Regions from separate parts of the Homo sapiens genome. Here region 1 is linked to region 2. A link means that fine-mapping ties the variant in region 2 to the expression of a gene that starts in the linked region. Tissue or cell type: whole blood. Region 2 holds a variant in brackets; the other region holds the start of a gene. All regions are shown on one strand. Distances are between the middles of the regions.

Evidence for each region. PIP is the estimated chance that this variant, and not a neighbour inherited with it, causes the effect.
Region 1: GPR137B starts here. The variant in region 2 is fine-mapped to the expression of GPR137B in whole blood (TOPMed, PIP 0.95).

The regions. Positions count from the first base shown.
Region 1 is chr1:236,141,296-236,143,979 of GRCh38, forward strand. GPR137B (G protein-coupled receptor 137B) reads left to right here and starts at 1,244. Exons shown (of 7, transcript NM_003272.4): 1 at 1,244-1,741. The coding sequence starts at 1,328. RefSeq lists silencers at 983-1,162, 1,233-1,502 and an enhancer at 1,468-1,971.
Region 2 is chr1:236,282,013-236,284,696 of GRCh38, forward strand. No RefSeq gene overlaps it. Among named protein-coding and RNA genes, the nearest start is that of ERO1B, 1.4 kb to the left of the region's middle. RefSeq lists a silencer at 1-290 and an enhancer at 2,125-2,274. The variant G/T (reference allele first, on the strand shown) is at 1,109.

The DNA.
Region 1 (2,684 bases), 140 kb before region 2:
TTAGGCACGAAGTGGAGTAAGAAAAGAAATCACAATTACTGGAGCCTCGGAAATCCGAGTTTCTTCTGTTTACCAGAACCGCTTGCCCAGCAATGTTTCCAGAGGGCGCCCGGCTTTCCCTCTTTTCCCAGAGCACTCCCCAGCTCTCCCAAGACAAGGGTGGCGTGGTGCCCCGGGGCAAAGACTAAGTCGCTGTACAGCCTCGAGGAGCGAGCTGCTCAGCAAAAGCAAAAGAGAAGGGCTCTCGGGTGGCGGGGACAGACCCTCCTTCGGCATGGGTTGGATCGGACAAGGGGGGCCGTGTGCCGTCAGCTGCCCCACTTCTCTCTGAAGCCCAGTGGGCTCCATCCACTGACCCGCGGCCCGCGCGCCTCCCGGCACCGGCTACATCGCTGGGAGGTGAGGCGCTGGGAGCGCGTGAGGCTCTCCGGGAGAAAACAGCCCAGCTTGCATCCCAGAGGAGGCAGCAGCCGCAGGCACCGTCTATTTCCTCACTCAGTATACAAATTTGACCTCAAAAATACGAACCCTGTCTTTGGCATGTCTGCATTTAGAAATAAACATCATTCCAGACGCCGGCCAGTTCATAGCCACAGAGTCGTAAAGTTTTATTTTTAAAGGGGGGGACGGAAAGGACTTGTAAAGTTTTTTTTTTAAATTTGTTTTTAAATAAAGGAATTAACTTCTGCAAAACAAGCAATCAGCAGCAGAATGCGCGAGGCCACGAGTGCGATCCCCCGAGGCGCGGGGCGCGGCTGGGAAGTTTTGGGGGCGCGCGGCGCGGTGCCGGGACCGGGGAGGAGGCGCGCGGTTCTGGGGGCGCGCAGTGCGGGAGCGCGCGGCCCCGGGGATGGGGAAGGGGCCGGGGACGGGTAGCGCGCGGCCCCTGGGATGGGGAGGGGGCGGGAAGGGGGGAAGAGACGCGGGGCTCTGGGGGCCCGCAGTCTGGGAGCGCGCGGCCCCGGGGATGGGGAGGGGGCCGGGAGGAGGCGTGCGGCTCTGGGGGCGCGCACTGCGGGAGCGCGCGGTGGCGAGGATAGGGCGGGCCGGGGTTCGCGGGGCGAAGGCGCGCGGTGCCCGGGGGAGGGCGGGCCGGGGCGCGCGGGCCGGGGCGGGGGCGCGCGGGCCGGGGCGGGGGCGCGCGGGGCCGGTCGGCGCGCGGGGGCGGCGGGCGCGGCGCTGCCAATCGCAGACAAAGGCCGTCCCAGTGAATCATGTGGTGCCGGGGGAGGAAGTGCGGCTTGTTTTCTTTCCTCCAGTCTCGGGGCTGCAGGCTGAGCGCGATGCGCGGAGACCCCCGCGGGGGCGGCGGCGGCCGTGAGCCCCGATGAGGCCCGAGCGTCCCCGGCCGCGCGGCAGCGCCCCCGGCCCGATGGAGACCCCGCCGTGGGACCCAGCCCGCAACGACTCGCTGCCGCCCACGCTGACCCCGGCCGTGCCCCCCTACGTGAAGCTTGGCCTCACCGTCGTCTACACCGTGTTCTACGCGCTGCTCTTCGTGTTCATCTACGTGCAGCTCTGGCTGGTGCTGCGTTACCGCCACAAGCGGCTCAGCTACCAGAGCGTCTTCCTCTTTCTCTGCCTCTTCTGGGCCTCCCTGCGGACCGTCCTCTTCTCCTTCTACTTCAAAGACTTCGTGGCGGCCAATTCGCTCAGCCCCTTCGTCTTCTGGCTGCTCTACTGCTTCCCTGTGTGCCTGCAGTTTTTCACCCTCACGCTGATGAACTTGTACTTCACGCAGGTGAGTTTCAGAGAGGCTCCTGGAGGCGCTCACCTGGCGGGGTGGTCCCCGCGGGGCGCCCGAGGCAGGGGCGATGGCAGCCGCGGGGGCGGGTCCGGCCCTAGGGCTGAGAGTGTAGGGAGAAGGCGCCGGCTCTGGGGTCGTCCGAACCCTGTCCTGTTTGCGGGCATTTGTCATAGGAAACCCCCTGCCATTCCCAAAAGGGGCAAGGAGAAGGCAGGGGAGGGCTGGAGGCCGCCGCTCACTCGCTGCCCCTGGCTCCGCATCGTGCGGTGGATTCGGGGCGCTTCTCCGTGCGCAGCGCGAAGCAGCAGCGCCTGCACACGCCAGTTAGTACGGATGGAAGGTGTGCCCCCAAGGGAGGCCTGAACTCTAGAATTTGCCCTGCCTCCCCAGGCACCTAACTCCCGGCCTGGAAAGGTCTTCTGCACGTTGGCCTCCAGATTTGGGCCTGACACTGCTGTTTTGAGCGTTGGCAGGGTGAGACCATGTTGGTTTTGATGAGATGTTTTGAACCTCCGGCTTAGGAGCTCTACAGAACTGCGGCTTACTAACTCATTCCACCGGATTGCTAAACAGCAGGCTGGGGTAACACCCAGCTCCGAGCTGCTGCCGCTCATCAGAGTTACTGTCTGAGCTCATCTGAGAGGCCCCAAGAAAAGGCCATAAAAGCTGACTGGGGCTCTTTTACAGCCACACAAAAATCACTTTATGGGGCATATTATTAAATAAGCTAATGGGAGAGTATGTGAATTAACTTGGCTGCTGCTTTACTGCTGATGGTTGACTTAATGAAAGTGCAGTAATTGTTGAGCACTTTGCAAATACTTTGTATAGCGTTGCACAAAGGTTTAATAACGCGGTGCCGCCGTCATCATCGTCATCATCATCTCTGATTCCCATTAGCTTTCCAAGCACTAAGATGTCCATTTTCACTAGGACT
Region 2 (2,684 bases):
CTCGCTTGGCTCCTCGGCCACGCCCCCAAGCGCGGGGCCTTGTGGGAGTTGTGGTCCTGGGCGGTCGCCTAGGCGCCGCGGCAGGAAGGCGGAGCCGCTGAACGAGAGGACTCGGGAACTACAACTGCGAAGGCCGCCCCGCCTCCCCGAGGCCTCGGGCTCCGCGGCGGCCAATGAGGCGGGACCACGCGGGCCTCCAAAACACCGGGGGGTGCGGGCGGGGGAAGCGGGGCGACCTCTTCTCCGGGAAACCAGGCTGAGGACCTCTCTGCGTCGGTCCCTGCTGTCGCTCCTGGAGTCCTCGCAGACGCCAGGCTCTAGGATTCACCCAGTACGCGGGCGAGTTAGGAACGGACGGTGCGGGATCTTTGACTTTCGGTCTGAAGCGTATTCTTTGTCTCATTCATTTTTCTGTAGCCTCACATCTGCTGTGGGTGCCTATGTAAGCTACCTGTGACTTGTAGAGATGGCTTCGGCTCTTTTTTAATTTCATGCACCCTAGATGTGGATGTCATCTCCTGCCCCGCCCCAGCCCGACTCCTAGGTTGACACGTGCGAGTATAACGCATGCTAAAGAATGAAGACAAACCCAAAGGCTTATGATGAAATATGGGGATGGGGTAAAACAAAAAAAAACTTAGAGTGACATAGATTGGGCGCAGATCCCAACTCTAAAACATTCTAGCTAGTTATTGGGCCTTAATTCCCACCTCATATCTTGTTCTAGGGCTACATAAGATTAGATACAGAAAGAGCTGAGTATAGTGCCTAGCACCTAGGAAGCACTCAATAAATGGTAACTGCTATTAGTTTTATTAATGCCTTTGATTTCTACAAAACGAGTAATACATCTCCCTTGTGTTTATGTAGCGTGTATTAGTTTCTCATTGATGCTGTAAGAAACTATCACACATTTAGTTGCATACAACAAAAGAAATTCATTACCTTATAGTACTGGAGATCAGGTGTCCAAAATGGACCTGTAGGGCTGTGTTCCTTTTGGAGGCTCTCAGGGACAATGTGTTTCCTTACCTTTTCCAGCTTCCAGAGGCCACCTGCATTCCTTACCTCATGACTTCACATCTCCTTCACTCTCTCTGCTTCCCTC[G/T]TCACATGCCTTCTCTTGTGACCCTAACTCTTCTGTCTCTCTTGTATAAGGACCCTTGTGATTACATTGGTTACAGACCATCCTATCTCAAAATCCTCAACTTGATCACATCTGCACAGTCCCTTTTGCCATATAGGATAACATATTCACAGGTTCCAGAGATTAGGATGAGGATTTATAAATAGAGGGTCATTAATCAGCCTACCACATAGTGGTTTATACCTTTCAGAACCAGCAGAGCATTAAACCAAATGCAGGGTCCTGGGGTGGCTGACTGCATAGGTCACATGCCCATGAAGCCAGTCCTGCCTGTCCTTTTCCCCTCCAGCAACTCTTTCCCTTCTGCCTCCAAACTGTCCAGATCTTCCCTAGCTTAAAAGCAAAAAGAAATTGGCTGGGTGTGGTGGCTCACACCTGTAATCCCAGCACTTTGGGAGGCTGAGGCGAGCAGATCACCTGAGGTCAGGAATTTGAGACCAGCCTGACCAACGTGGAGAAACCCTGTCTCTACTAAAAATACAAAATTAGCCGGGCAAGGTAGCACATGCCTGTAATCTCAGCTACTTGGGAGGCTGAGACAGGAGAATCGCTTGAACTCAGGAGGCGGAGGTTGCGGTGAGCTGAGATCACGCCATTGCACTCCAGCCTGGGCAACAAGAGCGAAACTCTGTCTCAAAAAAAAAAAAAAAAAAATTGTTGCTTGATTTTTCCAGCTACTTTTCCATGTCTCCTTTTCTCTTCCAAACCTATACTTCCTATCTGCTCACTGCCTTCTTCCCTTCATATAAATGTGCTTTTGATAAGAGAAACTTTTTATCAAGTTTGGTAGACTTTTTAAAAGATTCCTTGTCTGTGCTGTATTTGAGGTTGTCAATAACACATACTTCCTGGAATTTTGTTATGCAAAACTTCTTTTTTTAAATTGTGGGTTATAAATTTTCCTATTATAAAATCTCGGGTTCTTTAAGGACTCTCTCTAGTGCCTGGATATCAAAGGCAGAATTCATGGCTTTCCAGAGGCTTGAAATATTTGTTATTAAAGAACAAAGGAAGAAAGTGGGTTCGGGGGTGGAGTAAAAAAAAGAGAGAGAGACAAAGTGGACAGGGAACTTTAATGCAGACAGGGGTCAGATAGCTTTTGTCCTCTTAGTTACCTAATCCAGAAAGTCACAGTAACAAACCTCCCCGTTTGCTTTTGTTTTCAGCTCAGAAGCCTTACACATAACTTCTAGGGACAAATGAGATTTTTCTTGGTGAGTGAAATTGGAAATAGCAGGTGTTTGTCATGAAATAGGGGCATACCAAGACTCACTTAAAGTGGTGTCTGTCATGATCTGTTTTAGTGTTCATTGTTAAGAGTGGTATGACGGGGTTGTTTCTTTGTGAACAGGCAGCCCTCCTCTTTGTTCTCTCATTCTGACTGATTTACCTCTGCTTTCCCTAAAATCAGCTACACTGAAACCAGCATTGTGAGAGGCCCTGGGGATGTGCTATCACCCATGCTTCCTGCAGATGATGTTCAGTTAGAACCTTCCCATTCCTAAGGCTGTGGTTAGAAGTTGAAACAGGAAGAAAG